2 separate regions of the Homo sapiens genome follow, and region 1 is linked to region 2. Evidence: fine-mapped expression QTL. Tissue or cell type: stomach. Region 2 holds a variant in brackets; the other region holds the start of a gene. All regions are shown on one strand. Distances are between the middles of the regions.

Region 1 (10,882 bases), 23 kb after region 2:
AGAAAGCCAGGGGAATAGTGTAAGAAGAGCATTGCAGGCAAGGAGTCGGGGTACCCCATGGGGAAGCAACATGGGGCAATGGCTGGGGGCCAGATAGAGCACTGAGGAATAACTGAGTATAGCTGGAGGGGATGATGCCCGCAAGATGGTGGGGAAGATGGTGCTATGGAAGTAGATAGGGGTCTGTGGACTTTGTATCTCATAGTCAGGATTTGGGACTGTATCCTAATCATTAAGTCAAATTACTTGACCTGTAAACTTTAGTTATTTCATAGTAAAGTGGTAGAAATGATGCCTACCTAGTAGGATTAATGCGGGGGAGATTCAGTGAGATAATGTATTCAGTCCTTAATAAACTTCAGAATGTTTTACATTATTGAAATTTATATTTTCAAAATTGTTTTAAAGTAATTTTCAAATGAAAGTTATATGTTTTTCCATAAAACACTGCAATTTCAAAACAATGCCTGTATTTGATAGTCACTAAGCTTTCAGAATTTTTCTACTAGTTGAAGCCTCATTCATGAAGGAGAATAACTTGTACTGTCTAATTCCAGACAGTGAGGAAGCCAATGGAAAGCAAGTATTAATACAAGTTAGCATGGGGTGGGGGAGCCTCCTAAATAGTCTGCATTGCAAGGGGACTTGGAAGCTGATCATTTGCTATTTAAGAAAAAAAGTACAAATAGAGGTTCCATTCTAAATGTTTTGTTTGGGAGTCCAAAACCAAAATAGTTATCATTTAAATGTAGTTGTCAGTGAAAAATCTATCCTAATGTGTTGATAAATATGATTTTTGTATTCTTATTTTTAATATGTATTTATATTCATCAATAATAGGTTAAAAAGAGTGATCTCTAATTCTTCAAATGTAGCCACACTCTGATTCTATATGACAAATTTGTTTTGAAGGGGAAAAGATAAGTAAAAGTCATGCAAATAGGAATTACAATTTAATCTTTGGAGACAGTATTTAAAAAAATATCATGGGTACGTAATTTATGTCAGACTATTACTTAAATAGTTTCTTGGAAAACGTAAGTTGAATTTAAGCCAACAATCAGTTTTAAATAATTTAAAAAATAACCCTTGCACTTAACTATTGGAAATAGCAGCCAGAAAAGTTTAGAAGCAAAAATTACAAAGATTAATCATTCTCCCACCTTTACTTCTGACATGTGCTGGGATTGCTACTCCTTTATAGTCAGTTTCCCACCTGTAAAAGGCATTGTATGTGTAATCCACAGACTTCCAGGGCTGGAATGTGGAGTTGCAAGTAGGCATTAATACACTCTGAGAATAGAAAGATTTTGGTTTCAGAATTCTAATTATTCCAGTTCTTCTACTCTCTGTTCTGCAGGACACCCTAGCTCCTGCTTCCCAATATATACTCAATATACAACATCCTCCAAAGCTATAGAAACTAAGAACGAAAGTCTATTATTAATTGACTGCTACGTCGATAATTTGTTTTGTTTTCTTCCCAACAGCAGTCAAAAGGAAATGCCATGAAAATATTAAAAATTGATGTATATCTTTAGGAGAGAAGATGCAACATGTAGCAAGAACCAAAAAATCTACTTATTGCCCTTTGACCTACTAATTATTCTTCTGGGAAATGACCAAGCACAGACATATAGTAAAAAAGAAAAAAAATGGAAACAAACTTAAAGTGTCCAATAATTAGAGAATGGTTAAGGAACCCAGAATCATAAATTGACAAAATATTATGCAGTCATTTAAGAGGATATGGAAAAAACTATGAAAATACATGACAAAATTATATACAATAATGTTAAGTACATTGTATATGTATGTATTGATTACAAAAATGCAAAACCTATGTTATAAAATATTGAGGAGAAGAACTCAAAAGACATATAAGCGTGTCTGGTTTACATTGCATGTGGTGTTTCTTTTGAGCAGAGGGTTTTTTGGGATGATTTTTGAAATAGCAAAAATGCTGCTAGGATTAACTTATCACTTAAGCTTTCTCTCTTTCTCTTTCTTTTTAAATATGGCCCCTAAAGATGACCTGCACCTTGTACTTGCCCATTTTATCTCTTTTTATGTCCCCGAGGAAGTGTTTTTTTCTCCTAATAAACATTACGAACCTATTTATTCAATAAATGAATTTACAATTTTAGACAGTTACTCACTCTTTGATGCGCCCATGAATTTCCTTTCGCCAAAATTCATGATTACTTAGAGAAGAAATACTCCCTCTTTTCTTCCATGAATGAGCTGCTCTGCCTTTAGCATTGTCTGACATCATCATAACCTATGGAAGAAGACTTTTGTAAAATAGCAAAAGAAAGATCCGGAAACATTTTAGTTAGTATAACAGGGACTAATCTCAAAGTACACAGATAGTTTTCCTACCATTTTTGAACAGGAAAGTGGGGTTTCCTCAAGAGCAATATATAGAATTTGTTGTTATTCTGATCAGTGAAACTGGAACTATGATAACTCTGAAAATGCTTATTTATGCAATAGTATAATTATTTACATAAGCAGATATTAAGCTATAGCAAAAATGCTTAGCTGATGAAGACGGAGGTCATTGACAAAAGATATGCATGTATAGCAGAAAGATGCTATCCTACATCAGAAACCAATATTTGTATTGCCCCCCAAATGTAACCATAATACAACTTTGCTAATTAATATTTGCTGTCACTGTTATATTTTATTTTTGAGACAGGGTCTTGTTCTGTCACCCAGGTTGGAGTGCAGTGGCATGATCATGGCTCACTACTGCCCCAAACACCTGGGCTCAAGCGTTCCTCCCAACTCAGCCACCTGAGTAGCTGGGACTGCAGGTGTATGCCATCAAGCTGGGCTAATTTTTAATTTTTTGTAGAGATAGGGTCTATGTTGCCCAGGCTGGTCTTGAACTCCTGGGATCAAGCAATCCTGCTTCAGCCTCCCAAAGTGCTGGGATTACAGGCATGAGCCACTCTACCTGGCCTATTTTATTATTTTAGAGACAGGATCTAGCTCTTGTTACCCAGGCTGGAGTGCAGTGGCATGATCATAGCTCACCGTAACTTCAAACTCCTGGGCTCAAGCGGTCCACCCACCTCAGCCTCCCTAGTAGCTAGGACTACAGGCCTGCACCACCATGCCTAGCTAATTTTTAAACATTTTTGTAGAGACAAGATCTTTCTGTGTTGCCCAGGCTGGCCTTAATCTCCTGGCCTTAAGTGATCCTCCTGCCTTGGCCTCCCAAAGTGCTGGAATTACAGGCATCAACCACTGTGCCTGACCCACCATGACTTTAAAAAATAAAATTAGGGGTAGGGAGCTAGAAAATAAATAAATAAATAAAAATTAAAATTAACCTTGCTTTCCCAAAGATTTTTTGTTGTTTGTTTTGTTTTCTCGAGCAACATTTACATAGTTTGTAAAGAGCAAATAGGACTTAACTTTTAAATAAATAATTTATTGGAAAACTCCCTCCTTCCTACTAATACTTGTTAAAAAGCTGGTAGTAGCAATGGACTTCCCAGAACTTGGACTATAACTCTAATAATGCCCTCATTGTCTACCTACAAATTTAAGTATTCATTTAAATTATTTCATAATCTATAAATGTGAGAGCCCCGATAAGGAAATACTGTGCTAGACACCAAAGCATAAAAATAGAAGAGAATCCATGCCTTCAAGGAGCTGGCAGTTGAGTAGGTAGGGCACACAAGAACATACCCTAAAACCCAGTGGCATCAATGTCAGAGCAGAGGTGCTGTGTGTGGGTGAGGCAGGCAGCGTGGTGTGTGTGTGCACGTGAGTGTGAGCGTCCTTGAGTGTGTACCTGTGAGTGTGCATCTCTGTGTGTGCAGGTGCCTGTGTGTATAAGTGTGTCTGTGTTCGTGTGTACGAAGGTGAGTGTGTTTATGAGTGTGGAAAGACACACAGCCTGATTAGGTGGGTCATTCAGGTTTTGCTGCAAAGCCACATAGACCCATCTCGGCCTCAGCTGTTTCCAAAGCTGCCCTGCAGGCCGCCCCCTCCCCAAGAAAGGCCAGAGTTGGGACCTGGAGGTCCTCATGGGTGCGGCCAGCCACAGGAAGACCGCCCCGGGTCAGGGGATGACCTTGCTGGCCGGCTCTGCGTTGGCCATCACTCTTGAAGCCCAGCCCCCAGCCATGCAATGGGGCAGGGGACGAACCGTTGGGACCGACTTTCAGTTCCCAAATTTGGGATCATTTTTTCTTATGTGTTGGGGAGAGGAGGAATAAGGTGGCGGAGAGATCGGGGCCAAGTAGGGCCATTTCTCAACAAAGGGCCGATCCCTTGCCCCCTATCCTTCCTTTGGGGTCCAGACGCGCTGCAGAGAGAGGCGACCCTACCTGCAGCAGGGAGGCTTCGCCCGGAGCCTCCCAGACCTCCGGCACTGCAGACACTGCGCGCGGCGCGGCTCCCGCGTCCCAGGCTTCATTCAGCCGGCGGCCGCCCGCGCACTCTCCCTGGACTCTGAGGCCGGTCTCCAGGGTGACCTCAAACAGAGCCCTCGGCCCTCCCCGGCCGGACTTGGCCGCTGAGTGGCCCTCTGAGCTGCCCTAAGGATGTAGAGGATCTCATCTTCACTGCCCACTGGGGGTCACTCTGAGCCGGGCTGCGTCCTGGGTTGGCGGCGAGCTGGAGGGGAACTGGTTCATTGTGTAGCGAGGAAGACATTTGGGACTAAAGACATTTGCACCCCTAGGGCCCCTCATCAAGTTCCTTTTCCCGCAGACATCAGGGGCAGGAGTGGGAAGTGCTGCGGTTTCCTAGCACAGGAAATCCGAAGCGCAAAGACAAAGTAAAGTAGCCCTGCCCTTTTCCCGGCTCCTAACGCTGCTTCGCACGTTCCCCCTCCAAGGCACAGGCGGTGGAATGTGGAGGTAAATGAGCACTTACATTGGCCAGATACCCCAGATACCGACAAACATTGGGATTTAGTCGTCCCAATAACTCTGTCAAGAAAGGAATGTTTTCCCTTTAAAGGATTTGGAAAATTGAGATTCTAAAATGTTAAATAATATGCCCAAGGCCCCTGAAACTCATGGTCTTAACTCCAATGTGTTACAAACCGGGCTGGGTTCCTTCGCTTTCCTTAACAAGACTCTTCTGAGCCTGTTAATGTCTAAGAAGCTTTGAAATGAGGCTGTTTGGGGTTGAGGACCTACCTGCTGGTATGAATGGGCTTTTCCTCTTCTTCAGCGACTATCCCCAGCCTAAGCCTGGTTTGGGCCTCCCCAAACCAAAAGCAAACAAAATAAACACTATAGGGACCCTCCTGTAGTGGGCAATCATTGGAAGCAGAAACAAGATGCCTCCAAGCATCTAGCCAAGGGCATGGCTCTTGATGAGTGTCCTGCTGGAATTAGCATTAGCTGACAGTAATACATTGGGATTCCGGTGGAGCACAGTGTTAGGATAGTGTTGGAAGAAGAGAAATAGATATTTTTGCCCATCCCAATCTCTACTCACAGAAAGATAAGAACAGGAAAGGATTGTTGATTGAATATCTACTATGGACTAGATAGGAACTGCTAGGTGATGAATAAACATTATCTCATTGAATTTGTTCAGTGACTATGACATAGGGGACATTACTCTATTTTTTTTTAAGATAAGGAAATGTAGAATCGTTGAGTAACATGCTCAAGTCGATATTTAAATCACAGAGCTGAAATTTGTCTAACTCTTAACCCTTGACCTTTGACAGACCTTTGGCCCACCATCCCTACCCTAAACATGGAATGAAGTTTTCCAGAAATGCGGGTAAAATTTTAAGAGGCTGACAGCAAAAGATATTCACAATTCAATTTATTTTCATATTTTTCATTTATTTTCCAGAAAAAGAAATCACATTTCAGTAACAACTTACATATAGAATTAAACTTTGTTCTGGAATGGGAGCCCTAGTTGCAGTAACGTGTCATAATAAATAATTGCATATTCAGGATTTTGTGAAATAGGTGATTGGGAAAATTATGAACAAAAAACATTTACAAAAATTATTATTTACAAAGAGTGATATCCATACTATTTCTAACTTATAAGGCAAGTAATGTTAAGATGGTCTCATGATTATCTTCAACAAGTCAATTACACACTTTCCTGTCACCATTGCCCAGCAGAGAGCTTTGCTGCAATTCTGTGAAGGAGCAAGTAAGTCTTCGCTTCCGTTGTTGGTTTTCTCTTGAGCACAGCATAGAAGCAGTAAAGCTTTCATTACAGACTAAGCAGTAATGGCTGTCAGAAAAAAGTATACTCTTTTGAAATAGACGTGTAGGAAAAAGGCTGGGAATCAACATTTTGACTAAATTTTGAAAGTATCTTGAGTATTTTAATTCACAGTTTTGTAAGTATTTTATGCCCAAGGTATTTTTGTGAAATTATGTACTTAGTACAAGATTAAAAAGAAATTTAGTGTATTTTTGCTACATAGATCAAAGAGAGCTCTAAATAAAGGCTACCACCAAATCAAATTACACACAGCATTTTCCTTAATTGACAGGATTTCATTACCTATAGAAACACAGCAAAATCTTTCTGAGATTCCTAGATTCTTGCATTGTTCAAGTTTAAAAAAAATCAATGCCTTACATGGCCACTTAGTAAGAATGAAAATTAATATCCGAGTATTTAATTCATATGATCTTTTACTATACAAGTGAAAAACAAACAAAAACTCTTTTTAATCGAAAACAATAGTGTTCAAACAGCTTAAAAAGCCAGCTGTATACATTACTGCTTGGCCTGTGGTGAAGCTCTGTTCATAGATAAGATTAATATATCATCATATCAACACTTGGCTTTTTCAAGAAAAATTATTCAGCAGCAATTTTCCAATTCCCCTTAGACAGAGAGGAAAGAGACACACACACACACACACACACACACACACACCCCCACACACACACAGAGAAAGAGAGAGAGAGAGAGAGAGAATATGAATTAGATAGGAGCCAATCTCTTTCATGTATGTCCATTTAACAAAGCAAGAACTAAATTCTGACCTGAAAAATCAACACAGCTATATGAATTATCATTCTAGCAACTTGAAAAGGGAAAAAAATCTGACTTTGGATCTTGGGACAGTGGTTCTTGTGATAGTTACTTGTTGTATGATTTAAAATACCTTAGAGTGATGGTGAATGAATAACATCAAGCATTTACTTTGCGAGAAAAAAAATTCATAAAAGTAATGTAAAACTGAATGAGCGAGATGGAATTAACATTTGTATGATATACTCATTCAATGGAACGTTTAAAAATTATAAATGGCTTATGATCTATCAGGCTGATTCACAAACTCTGGATGGATTAAAAACTGAACTATCTTTAGAGAAATGTAAAGTGATTCAGTTTGATTCTTTTCTATATGATAACAGACAATTTAACCAGGAAGTTTTTAAAGAAACTTCGTTAATTTGGTATAAAAGTAACTGATTGGCAAAGTAAAGCAAAGCAAAAAAAGAAAAAAAAACAGCAAAAAAAAAACCCTATGAAATGCTCATTAAAAGAGTATAGAATCTCACAAAATCTGTGCTAAACAGTGCACTGCTCTTAGCTTTCCCCAAAGTGTTTTTAATATAATTTCTGACAAGCTGATGTAAAAATACTGTCAACATTGATCTATCATGATTCAGTTTCCTAAAGCTGTTTAGTAAAACGTTACTGGAGATTATTCACTGGCATTAATTCCACACGGCAAAGAATTGGAAACATCTTCAACAGATAGGGGTCTGATATGCTGGTCATAGGTGCAAGCCTTAAAAATAATACAAAAATTAAAATAATTTTATTGTTTTGTTTTGAATATTTTAGATGATAAAGTTAAATTCACTAAGAGATACTAATGAAATTTAAAATAGATAACAATTCATTTGAAATGACAGGAATTCTCTTAAAATTAAAACAAAATTCCAGAAGCATTTTTTTCAAAGCATTCCTGGTTATTTTATTTACAATTATTGAAGGATATATAAACTAGTGTTAAAAGAAAACTTTTCCAAAGGTTTCTCAAGGTGTGCTTAGAAAAAATTTTTTTTACCTGATTCAATAACTTTCTTAAGCTTCATTAAAACACTAACATTTATTGTCAATGTCCAAGGAGAGAGAATTATAGTATAGGACCATTTGTTCTCAGACCACAATGAACATCTTCCAGAACACAATTTGTAAAATACTGGAATATTGGTGAGCATAGCCCAAATACACTTTACTTCTTTTCTTTAAAACATTACGGGACATTTAAAAATATATTTGTTTTTTGCCAAAACATTTTTTACAAGGATAAAGATGTATTTAAGGTAGGCAAGGTATTACTCTAGGGATAGAAGGAGGCAGTTAGAAATCAAAGGAAAAATAATTTTAGAAGTTAAACCTAGAGAATAAATTATTATACCCATGGTCAATGCCAACAAATAGGTGTCTTTTCCTCATAGACATACCCATTTAGGAGAGAAATCAGATATTAAATGTGAGGGCCAATCAAGAGGTTCACCATGGTCAACTCAACAGACTTTACATTTGACATTCCTTCATGAAATATATTTAGATCTTAATTAGATGTCAGCAGTGCAACTCTAGCTTGCAGAAGATGACAGAACATTGAAGCAATGACACAAGAGAAAGGCAAGTGTTTTGTTGTTGTTTTTAATATTTAGAGACTTAAGCAATGTACTCCTATCTCATTTTCCTTCCATACACTCCACTGACAAAAAGGAACATTAATGGTAGCCATATTTAATTCATAAGTGAGAGAATGGCATTTAGATACTGTTTTCCACATGAAAAAAAAGCCTAAAGGAGCAGGGAAAATACAATAAAACCTTAAGAGGAAAGTGCACACAGTAAAAGATGGTGAGGCTGGTCATCCAAATAGTCCCTTTAATCAATGTAACTTGGATTGATTTGTTCATTTATATCAACAATCTAATTTGACTCATTGCATGGACACATCATATTATATTAACTTTCAAAGCTATATTTAGAGATCACTCTTGTTTTGATATTATTAAATATAATGTAACACTTCCATTTTTTAAAAAAATTGCTGATCAGAAAACCATGTGGCAAAATGAGTACATTTAGACTGAATGGGATTTTGCTCAAATGTATAATCTTTTGGAAAAGGAAAAGCTTAAACACAGACACATACACACACACTCATCTGTTTAGTATGTATCTGCATATTCTACTGTATTGTTCAATTTAATTTACAGCCTGTGGTTATTTTGAGAAAAAATATTCGTGCAACTCTTTTAGAATGAGGCTACCACATGTTTGTAAAGTCAAAAGCTTACAAAATAAATAGGTTCAACTCACAAGTTAGAGATCTGAATGTCCCTTGCAAAGAAGGAAACATTGATTAGGATTTTGTATTTGAATAAATAACAGCTTGCAACTTCCCTTCTACTTCAAGTCTTTTAAGACATTGAAGAAAAGGACAGAAATATGAAAATGAGAAAATGCATTTCAGGCTACTTTGAGACTGAGATAGTATAACAGAGTAACTTTAAGAAAAAGATAGGGATTTTCCTAGGGAAAAAAATTTTTTAAGATTGGAGGAAATTAAGTGGACTGAATGAAAAATAAACTGACTAGAAAAATGGTTTTCATCTTAGAATTTAATGCTTAAAATCTGATATAATGTCAGAACTAAGAAGGACCTTAGAGATCTACTAGAGCAATGATTCTCAAATTTGGAGCACTTATCAAAATGTATATTCCCAAATCTCATCCCTAGAAGTTTATGCTGTCAATACAAATTTATCGATGCCTACTGTGTATAGCTTGTATGAACTTGATTATACATGTTTCCTTATAATGCCACAAAAGGTGGTATATCTGAGTAAAGTAGAATCATGGAATTTCAGAGATGGAAGACATTGATATGTGGTAGATCATTTTGTGTTGTTACGGTGTTTAACAATGTTTATCAGTGCCTACTATCTTCCAGGCATAGTGGTGACCAAGCCAAAATCATTAATAAGTGATGATACAAAACATTAATAAGTGATGATACCAATCATATTTTGAGAAGCAGTGATTCTTTTTTGACAGTTTTGTTATTGGAATTATCCTTATTTTGGTAATGGTTTTTCATGGTGCCTTCTACCTTGGCATTCAAATGGAGTACGTATAGTGACATAAAACAGATTGTTTTGTTCAGGGTGGACAAAGCAATTAAGGCGTTTCCTTTGCAGTCAGAATAGCTGGGTTACTTTCAGCTGCCGTGTCATTTTGGGGAGATTATTCTATTTAAGCCTCAGTGTCATCACTTGTAAAACAGGAATTAAAAAGAGTACTTACAATTTTTTGATTGATAAGAGAATTAAATGAGCTAATATCTCTAGTGACTGGTACATGGTAAACACTCTGTCAGTTTTTATTGTATATCATTCAATTACTGTGTTTTTACAAGTTTGCTTATAAAGCCTCAAAAGGTGGTTTATCTGAGTAAATTACAACTGTGGAACTTCAGAGTTGGAAGACACATGATAGATCATTGTGTACTGTTATGGTATTTAAACCATGCTCTGGGGAGCCCCAATTTAAACTGTTGGAGAAACTCCTGCATTGCTTTGAGCTGTTTTGCCTACCAGGATTCCATGTGCAATTTTATTAGAAAAAAAGCCCTGCTGTTAAGAAAAGCTTGAAAACCACTGGCAATCCCAACTCCCCATTCTAAAGATGAGAAACTGAAAAGGGCAGTGATTTGTCCAATATCATACGGCAGGAGTCAGTGGCAGAGCCAAGGTATTATAGTTATCTGCTTTTCTAAAAGAAGATTTAGAAGTGGAAATACTTGTAATTATAGCTCAAACACTCTGCTGACTAAGAATATATAAAACAAAAAAAATTCTGTAGTTTGACTGAGGGA
Region 2 (10,882 bases):
TGTTAATTGGATAAATGTATTCTGGATTTTTCTTATGACAACATATTTGAGCCTATACTGTGGTCACTTGTGTACTTCTCTTTTCACCCCTATAGGATCCTAGTTCCTCAGGGGTTGAACTGTGTTTGCTATTATCTATGCAGCTGGGAGTTATGTAGCACAGTGCAATGCACATAATGATAACTTTAAAAGTAAAAATGATTTTTATTTCTAGGCACTGTCAAGTTATGTGGTCCATGTCCTCAATATGTCTTCAGTCTATTAATAGTAAGGGAAACAAAACTAGAATTCAAAAGTTAGCTAGAGAACAATCAAGAGCTCAACCACGAGAATAATCAGAGGAGAGAGAGAGCAGGAGGCAAGCAGTGAATAGAGAAGGACTGAGAGAAAAGGTAAGACCTGAATGTGACCCTGAAAAGCGAAGAAAGTGGCTTAAGTGGGAGGGGGTGTTCCAAGGTAGGAAAGCATGAGTGAAGGCTCTGGAGCAGGGATGGGCATGGCTGGTCTGGGAAGAAGGATGGCACTTTAGGAGAGGAAAAAAATACCAGGGAAGTTCAGGGCATTTCAAAGTAAAACAATTCCTTCAAATTTATAGTGTCATTGTTTTAAAAATTTCTCATGATAAGGTTCTGTGTGATAATTTCATTAAAAATTTCTCATGATAAAGTTCTGTGTGATAACTAGCTTCTCCCAAGTTAGTTGCAAGGAGTGAGTTTTTACTATGTATTCTTATACTGCTATATAATTGCTAGAATTCATCACTGAGTATCTGAATTACAGTGTGTAGCAATATGCTGGCAAACTGCTTTCTTTTTTGTTTTTTAACTGCCGTCATGTTTTGCAGTTTCGATTCTCAACACAGCCTGGGGAAGACAGTAAGAAATTATCTCATGGATTAGAATTTAGAACTCTAAAACAAACAGTCATTGTTACAATAGACTTTGTATATGTTAAAGAAGTTTCTTCATTTTCATTTATTCATACAAAATTAGTGATATGATTACCCCCGCTGTTGTTCCACGAAGGGAGATGTTCACCAATGTGTAATGAAAATATGAAGCTCATTTACTTGTTATACGTGTAATCTAATCCAGATTGAAAACTGTTCTATGGAGATTGACAAATATTGGTTGTGATAAATTATTACATAGACATATTCCCACTAATGCACTAACAGAAAAAAAAAAGTGAAAATTGACAAATTCATTTTGAATAATCACTTTAAAAGCCAGAAAATAGCAGAAGGGAAGGGATTTTAAAAGTATCCATTTTTTACTACATGTCATTTTTAGGGAAAAGTAAGACACCAAAACATTTTAAAATTAAAGCATTAACTGGTTTTCCATTTGCTAAACTCTTTTTGATATGAATGATAAATCATTTTTTCCTTAAGACTACAGCATTGCTAATTTTCTCCATATGTGTACAATTTGTCTTTGACCTTTAACAAATGTCCTCTAGGCAGTCCACTTACCATCCAAGAACAACGCCACAACATCATTTTACTTGCACACAAAGACTTGAAAGCTTCATAAAAATAAATGATCCGTGGCGTAAGATACATTAACCAGCAGAATAATAAGCTATTTCAGCCCTGTAAATTTTAGCACCCGTCTATTCAAAAACCTCACTGGGTCACTTTAGTATTAAATTCATAGGAGTAAAATGGTAACTACACATGCTTTATTTGTTAAGGTGCCAGCCATATATTTTGTGAAAAAGTTTGTTAGCCTAGGATATTTAAAAGCAATGTCTCTTTCCAATAAATGATTTTATGTGTTACAGACACATTTAGTATTAAGCATCATGTATATTTAATATCACAATGTCTACTTCAGTGTCCCAAAAAGCCTTTATTCACTTTATAGTTTCCATTACTGAAGAGCCAACTTTCGGTTCTCCCACAATTGTGTAAAGTGCAGGCAAGCCACAAGAGCTTCTAGTTTTAGCTTGCAGCCCGTGGGACCACGATAATTGTTATGAAGCCATTAATTCTACCTCAGCAGTTTCAACTGTCAGGTACATGTAACAATAATTGCACTTAATGAATGCTGCTCAATTTATTAAGTACAAAATGAAAACCAGTATTCTTTTATATGCAGCACTGAGGCACATTATTTATCATTTGTGTATACCATGTTGAATATTCTACTATCATTTATTGGTCAGGGTATATAGCCATAGTTTTTCTAAAGCTTCTTTTTATTAAAAAACAATGCAGGAAATTGTAACACTCTAATTAAAGAATAATTAAAATAATTAGTACCAAAACAAATATTTAATAAGAATCTATGTCTATGGAAAGCAATCCAGCAAAACCAAGATCAAGTTCCTGCTTTAGATAAACAAGATTCTTTCTGTGGCTACCCTCCCCTCCCCAAATCTTTACTAGAATATGAAAAAATTCAAAAGCTTCCAGTTGCTTGAAATATCAGTGTTGTTTCTTTCTCAAAGTTTTTGGCAGTAAAACTTTTGTGTACAGACATACAGCCTGCCTCAGAATTTTCAAAAGTAAGAGCTAGATTTCTTATTTTCAATCACTCAAGGTAAACTGCATAGACATTTGCAAGAGCGAAGAGAGAAGAATTTCTGAAAACATAAGATGAAAAGGTATCACTTTTAGGATCCCAGAGGCATCTGCTTCCAATAAGTATGCTCTGCCTGTTCAGTTGTCCAATGTGAACAATCACAATTAGTTTATACCGTGGAATCATCAAGTCCTTGACCTGGGCTTTAATAACCTAGAAATTTAAAAAAAGGGAGGGTCTTCATTCAGCTACATTGAAACTCAAAAGCATTAACCTTTGTTATAAATATAAGGGATTTAATTTAATAGCATGATGCATTGTAGATACTTTCAGTGATTGTTTTAGAACCGTAAGTATGATTCCCTTCAAGCATGGTCCCCTTGAGATAGAACATTCAGGAACAAAATTTTAACACCAGCAATAAATCAACCTTTTCTAAGATACATGAAATAATTATAATCCAGAACACAGAATTTAATAAATTACATTCTTTGAAAATTTATGTTAAGATGGCTTCATGTCAAAGAATGTTGGCATTGGAGTTACACTGTCTTGTTCATGTCTAATTAAGAAACCATACATCTGGAGTCTCCTGTAATATAACTAATCATTAATGTTTATTAAAGAGTTTGTTATCAAAAAGAAAGTAGAGGAAACCTTGATGAAGTGCAGCCCTGGGGTTTGTAAAAATAGAAATGTGCTTGAAGACCACAATGTCTGTATTTGATGGCACTCAAAGAAGCTGCCTTAGTGAAGAGAAAATAATCATTAAAATGTTGTATCTTTTACAATAAACACTTTTATAAATGGGGCAGTTTTATACACTTTTACATAATGCATGCAAATGATGCTCATGATTGTTTTAGACAAAGGCTTTATGTATATACACACACACACACACACCCACACACACACATATATGTAGAATATGACCTAATTATAAATACGCATTTTAACTGTTACTGCAAATTAATTCCCCTCATCAAAAAAGTAGAGGGTCCGTTGTACTTTAGCAAATATTCTAGCTATTGTTAACACTTTGGGCAAATCACACACGTACCTCAGAAATGGTTTTAGTCATCTGTCTACAGAGCTCTGGTTCATATTCTTCTACTTGTAGATAGCTGGTTACTACATCTTTCAAAATATGATTGACGGTGACCACAGGAAAATGTTTGGGAGGACCTGAAAATACACATAAAATTTATTTCTAAAAAGTAATTTCAAATCACACCCACCCACCCCATAGGCTAATCAAAAGAGTATGGAAACATGGAGGGATTTAATCTTCTGGGTGGACTCTATTGAAAGAAACAAGTGGCTCTAATTAGGTTTCCTGTCAAGTGCTCTGAGAGAGAACAAGAAGACAATATTTTCGTACATTTACGTGACTATCTCAAAAGTGTGTTCAATACTGCTGGGGTTTGACCTTGAAAGTCTCTTCCTTCCCAGGCCCCATTGTTGTGGACATACTTCAAAGTCTCAACAACTTTATAACTGGCTCTCTACCTCTTATATCTCCCGCTCCAATCTATCTACCAGATCTTAAATGACATTCCCCTTAGCGAGGTCTAAAGTGTGATTCCCTACTGCCCCTTCTCCCGCTACCACAGTGCCCCTCTTGTGGACTGCTCCAGCCTCACAGGCTCCATCTGTCTATAAAGGTGCTCCTGTGTCCTTACTCTTGCTCTTTAGTTTTCAAATGGAATATCTTTCCCCATCTTGTTCATCTGAGAAACAGCCACTCATGTTTCAAGACCATCTCAAATGTCTTCTTCTCCAGGTAGCACTCTACCTCCTCTCAGGTAAAAATGTCCCTCCTTTCCATGCACTGGGTCCCCACTGCCATCCTGGCTCCTAATCCACTTGATATTGGCTAAAGCATACCTGCGTTTCCAGTGAAATGGTAAGCAAGCTCGGATTTTATCCTCCTCAGAGTCTAATACAATGCTAAAGGCATAAGAAATTTTTAATGTATGATTTCTGAATTTAAATAGAATTAAATTTTATAGATAATCATTATATATGATATATGACTGTATATTGTATACATATATAATAATGAATACTTTTTATTAAGCCGTTGCTACATGTCAGGCAGTGCGATAAGCACTTCATATTACCTTATATAGTCTTCCAATAGATCTCTGAGGTGAATCTCACTGTTATCTCCATTTGGCAGGTGGGGAAACAGAGATTTATATACATTGAGTAACCTGCCCAGAATCACACAGAGAGGCAGAGCTGGGGTGCACACCCAGGTTTATCTGATGCTAGAGCTTATATTCTCGACCACATTTCATCCACGTTCAGAGGAGAAGCTTCAAATGAATCTTCTTCCTCCTGCATCCCAGGAATATTAGCCATATCATCACTTTGGTCATATACTAATGTCATTGCATGACATGAACATGTGCCCAGGGCCTGGCATACAGAAGCCCAGTCATTATTTGTTGAATTGATAAAGATGAAGGAATGAGATCAAGAATTCTATTCAATTCTCTTTTAATATATGTCAATATCTAGTAATAAGTGTTTGTTTGTGATGACTGTATCTGTCAGGGTCAAATGAAACATATGGCACCCTATAGTTAAAATAATTCCAGGAGGAAGTTCTGAGTGGGCTGTAGAAAATCACAAGGGATAGTGCAGCACCCCTCAGCCAGTGAAAGTAAGGTTGTCAGCCCACCCCTCCCACCCCAAGATTGGGGAATAGAGGAAGAGCTTTTAATAGATCCCAGAAGGGTCATGTGGAGAGGGCTCCCTTGGGAGCAGTTTCTGTCCTTTGGTTGAAGAATGTAACCAGGCTGTGATGAACTCACAGGCAGGAGCCAGGGAAATAAACAGCTCCACCTCACACTTCTCACTCCCTCTGCCTCTCAGCTGAGGTTTCCCACTGGCTGAACTTAACCAGAAGGTTACAGCCTCTGACTGCAGTTCAGTTAGGTGAGCCTCTTGAGGTTCTATAAATCGTTATTTTTATTTTGATGATAATATAGAAATTGTTGAATTCCACTTAAATCGTGGAAGGGTGGGGGTGGAGATTGAATCTAGAAAGTGGTTCTTAAAGATCTCCCCATCATCTCCTGCGAACCCAAGCCTAGGGCATGGTTGATTAACCCAGGGTGACAATGCTCTAGGCCAGGACAATGAGAGTCTTTTTTTGGAATTTTTATTTTAAACTGCAAGTAGGAAAAAAGAGTCAGCCTCTTTCTGGTGGCAAAAGTTACCATGTGACTCTGAGGACCTGCTGGAGGACATGTTTTTCATGGTGGTAAGGAGGCCAGGCCACCAAAAGAGAAGAAAGTGCACATAGGTTAGTGCTGGAAAGAGGGTCCTGGTGGCACTTGAGTCTGTTTCCAGTAGTTC[C/T]CGTTGTACAGTGCTACCAATGTCCTTTCCATACTTCGCTTAGATTAAAAAAAAAGTCATTAACCAGATCCTGTTTTGAAAATACTTTGAAATATGGTAATGAAGTATTCTTTTCTTACTTCTTTGTTACCTTTCCCCTAAACATCCAGAATCATCCATCAATGTTCAGTTTCTGACTTCTGAAATAAGCTCCTAAAACTAGTTTCAGAGTAAACTGATGTGAATGGCAAAGCTTTTCTTCTTTCTCGAGATTTTTTTTTTCCTTAGGAGAAAAAACGTGTTTTAGAAATCAAAAGGCAAAGACCTGAAGGATCAAGACAAAAAAAATTTTAAAAACAAACAAAACTTGTCCTTAAAAAGTAGATAAAGATAAGTTTACTTAATGTATGTGGGCCTCCACTACCCCACATTGGGGTAATAATAATAATTACTACATTTTTTTTTGTTAGAATTAAATGAGACAATAAATTGAATATGTTTAGAACAGTGCTTGTCACACAATAAAACACTCCTTAGATATGTGATCTTATTAGTGTTATTGCTGTTATTGTAGTTATTGCATGCTGAAGGAAGAATTGGGGATTTACCTTGCTGAGAAGGCAGCAAGATGAAAGAGGACGTAAGTCTGGAGACAGTGAGGCCTGTGGGATTAGGAAGGACCCCATGTGGTGGTGTAAAATCAATGCTGAGAGATTGACAGGCTCTAAGAAAACCTGACATAGAGACAGGGCCTGAGCACTTCATGGAAGCTGAACTCAAATAATCTCTCTCTTTCTCTCTCAATATTTTGGATCTACTTTCTACTGTGCTGGCTTCATTCTCAAGGCAGGCTGTCTTGATGTGGTAGCAAAGATGGCCGCCAATCTAGTTTGGCTCGGTGCTCGCAGTCCATGTTTGCAAACAACCAGGTGCCACTATACTCAGTTCCAGAAAAAGTCCTGTGGAAAACTTATTCCATAATTAATATGAAGTTACAATGAATATCATGGAAGGCTTTTATTCTTAGTGATCTATAGTAAGGTCCTTGAGTCAGTCACTTTCAGGAGTAGTAACATGATGAATGGAGAGATTTAAACATATAACATCATTTGAGTCTCATAGCATCCATGTGATGTATAGACTATTATCCCTATTTACAAGTGAAGACACTGAGATTCAATGATGCTAAATACCTTGCTCAAGGAATTAGCAAAATTAGTATTCAAATTCAGATACGACAGATGCCACAGCCTGCATTTTCTTTTATATTTGTTTTAGTAATTAATGAGAAATATATAAATGGTATTTTATTAAAAGAAACACACTTTCCTTTTCTATTCCCTTTTCTCCTCTCATGAATGATACTCATGTTTCATCTCATTTTTTGTAGCTGTAATTATTTATGTAAATGCTCTCATTTAAGATGTGTTTAGATGAGGCAAACATTATTGAATGGAATGAAAAATTAATTAAACATAATAGTGCTGGTGATTGGCTGATATTTCCCTCTACTTTTCTGGCCAGTATTACATTGTAAAGATATGATAAACTATTTACCAAAGTCCCACTGATATAGTTTGGATATTTGTCCCCTTCAAATCTCATATTGAAATGTGATCCCCAGTGTTGGAGGTGGGGCCTGGTGGGAGGTGTTGGGGCCAGGAAGGTGGATCCCTCATGAATGGCTTGGTGCTGTCCCAGCGGTAATTACTGAGTTCTTGCTCTATAGTTCTTCCTCTATTAGTTCACATGAGAGCTGGGTGTTTAAAACAGCCTGGCACCTCTCTTGTTCCCTCTCTTGCCATGTGACATGCCAACTCTCCTTCCCTTCTGCCATGCCTAAAAGCTTACTGAGGTCTTACCAGAAGCAGATGTTGGCACCACGTTTCCTGTATAGTCTCTAGAACCATGAGCCAAATAAACCTGTTTTCTTTATAAATTACAGTCTCAGGTATTTCTTTATAGCAATGCAAAAACGGACTAATACACTCACAAAATACCTTTCATATGTGAAATAAACCCAGAAACAAGTAGAAGTGGAAACACAGTTTTGATTAAGTATTAATAAAATGGCTGGTTGAATGCTATAAAAAGGGAATTGTCAAGCATAAAATATTTTAATTATTAAAAAATTCACATAGACTATTGTAGGAAAATACAGGTATATTTCATCTATACTAAGCTTTTTCTAAAATTACTTTTCTAATGTGGTTCATACTCAGTACTTCTAAAACTGATAAGATGCTTTATTTGAGAAAACAAGTTGCAAAAAATATCCTTATGTAGAAACACAGAGATTCACATTTCACTGGCCCTGTCTTGTTCAAATCTGATTCAAACCCTTCCAGCATGCACAGTTCAAAGTCATAGACACCCCATGGCTAAGAACTTTTAGTTGCAAGTGAGGGAAAACCTGACCCAAACTTAGCTTGCCTAACTGAAAAGTTAAAGGGTAGCCAATTGGATTTAGGACTCAAATGATGACACCAGGATTCTGTTGTTTTCTCTCAGTTTCAAGTCAGGGCAAGGTGGCAGATCCTGCCAGAGCCCCTACATTCCTTCAAGTTTCAGGGCTTTATGTTCTTCTGCAACAGGCCAAACAACATTTTCTGAATTTAATCTCAAAGTCTTTGATTGGATTCACCATGGTTATATGCCATCCTAGAATCAGTCACTGCTCTATCTATAAAGCCAGTGCCAGCTTCATTAGAATGCTAGGATCAAAAGTGGTGATGTTGGTGGAATTTCAAAGGAAATTTAGTGAGGTTACCAGAGAAGTATAAAAGTATATTGGATGGCAGGAATATTAGCTGTCCACCACAGGCACTGTGAAAATACCAGTAGATTGGCTAATTATGGAGCCGTGTAATCCATGTAGTCTTGGGGACTCCTGTAGAAAACTGGCTACAAGGCCAGAGGGGACAGGCTGATGGTCTATAATTTTCTTGGGGTTAACTGGCCACAGATGGAATCACCTTGGCCCATAGAGTCTTTCTTTGCCCCTTGGTAAATCTCTGTGGAATTTCCATATAGCAGTAATTATGTATGAATTCAGGTAATAGTGGGCAGGTACGCTTTTAGAGAAAACAAGTGGGTCTATGAGGAAACATGGATGGGAAAAGATATTTGCCACGGACTCCACCTGGGAGTATAGCGGCAGGTGCAAAGATCTTTGTTTTCAAAGACTCAAAACCTCAGTGGTAATGGATAAACGTCTCTGTCAACAGGGGACTATGAGTCATTTGCCTTTGCTTTGAGTTTTTTTTTTTCCTTCACCTAACAACACTGATTGGTTTTGTTGGATAAAATATCAATACTTATCTCTTTCATTTAAGTCATATCTATGTACCCAGAAATACTCAGTGAATTTGTTAAGTCAGTAGTATACTGTATGCATCAGTGCCACCCAGTGAATTGTTTGGCATTTGGGAAACATTAGTAAAGAAAAGTAAGACAGCAAGTGTTGTTACCTTTTTGCTGAGGAAGAAACTAAAGCAACATCAAATCACTCAATTCATTAAAGTCCCTTATATTGTGCTAGAATTGAAGACAATGCCAGGTTATCAAATATCATTTTTAAGAGAATCAGTCACCAATTTAGAAGTTTAAAATAGGAGTGAGAGATAAAAGAACACACCCAACTGATAGGTGTTTTCCATCTGAACTGTAAGGCGAGAGATATCATCACGCTGACTGGGTTCTTCCATATAAGACACAGTACTCATAGAACTAAAAACAAGGGAGAAAACAAATTTTAGTCATTATTATAACAATAATAACAAAATACAATATTGCTTTAAGCTAAAATGTTACAAAGATGAAGTTTTCTCAGAAAATTTCAAGTAAGTCTTATGTAAATATCCTAGTGGCATATTGAAAGTCCAAAACATTTTAGAGATGGAAATATTAAGATGCAGAGGAATTATTTGGAGCAGGTCTCAATGTGATGGCTGAAGCCCAGGGCAGTTACCCAGGTCATCAAATTATCCAGAAAGCGATCCTGGGTTGATGTATGTGTATGGGGTAACAGTACATACTTCAAAATCCATTGCCAATCGCATCTCCACCACTGATATAAAGCCTCTCCTCAAAGTAGATAAAGCTCACAAACAGGGCTGGGGGACATATGAGGAAGCTTAAAATGTTGGAAGACAACTCTATATACACATGGAGTATTATAAAGAGTTCACTATTATATGTAGTTCACAAAATCCCTTTAGTATGAAAAAGAAAAATGAGAAACTCATCTACGTGGTAGAGGAAACCGCAATTCACCAAAACTATAATACATTAATAAGCATCAATCGGCCTTTTCAACATCGAAAAAGGGTTTTGGTTTCGTTATCAAGGCAATATGAGCTTATCCTGGTGCTAAACAGGAGACCCAAGCAAAGAGGAGGCCCCACTGTCTCTCCAGCACTACTTAATTCAACTTAGTTCAGAGGAAATTCAGCTGTAACTAATGACAGTCTCAGAATGCTGCACCCTCAATTTTCTCCACCTGTGAAAATGAACTTTAAGACAGATGTCATTTCAAAGGGGAGGATATAATAGCATGTGTGTGTGTGTGGGTGTGTGTTTGTGTGTGTGTGTGTTCAGAGTGACCACTTTTCTAAGCAGGCTATGTTTTTGCTTTAATTAAATAAAAAATAGATATTTGCTCTTAATCTTTGGGGATCTTTTTTCTTGCAAGGAATTTAAAATACTTAGTTCTACGCTGTTTGGAATTAATGAACTTCTTGCAAATCGATATTTTAAGAAAATCACGGGTAATCTATTTTTAAAAATCCTTTAATGCAATACAACTTACATGATAAATTAGGGTTTACCCACTCAGCCCAAGAAAATGATGGAAGAAATTCTGGCTGCTTTTTTCATGGTGGATTTCTGGATGAGTGACTTAATCTTTATTCTTATAACACCTGCCTTCCTCAATTTACTGCTGCCCTTTGAAGTAGCAACCAGCCTGTTTGGCCACACTGGCTGCAGGTGTTGTGGGCAATACC

Which allele goes with the higher level. Alleles are on the strand shown, and positions count from the first base shown. SD is a standard deviation of normalised expression in the study named.
As copies of T replace C in region 2, the expression in stomach of the gene that starts at base 4,478 in region 1 goes down (moderate effect, 0.64 SD a copy in GTEx).

What was found. PIP is the estimated chance that this variant, and not a neighbour inherited with it, causes the effect.
Region 1: DYNLT5 starts here. The variant in region 2 is the best candidate, but not a certain one, in a credible set for the expression of DYNLT5 in stomach (GTEx, PIP 0.57).

The regions. Positions count from the first base shown.
Region 1 is chr1:66,746,055-66,756,936 of GRCh38, reverse strand. DYNLT5 (dynein light chain Tctex-type family member 5) reads right to left here and starts at 4,478. Exons shown (of 5, transcript NM_152665.3): 1 at 4,353-4,478; 2 at 2,160-2,281. The coding sequence starts at 2,278. SGIP1 (SH3GL interacting endocytic adaptor 1) reads right to left here. Exons shown (of 25, transcript NM_032291.4): 25 at 5,798-10,882.
Region 2 is chr1:66,769,110-66,779,991 of GRCh38, reverse strand. DYNLT5 (dynein light chain Tctex-type family member 5) reads right to left here. Exons shown (of 5, transcript NM_152665.3): 3 at 9,514-9,605; 4 at 3,589-3,713; 5 at 945-2,741. The coding sequence ends at 2,538. Among named protein-coding and RNA genes, the nearest start is that of DYNLT5, 22 kb to the right of the region's middle. The variant C/T (reference allele first, on the strand shown) is at 5,898.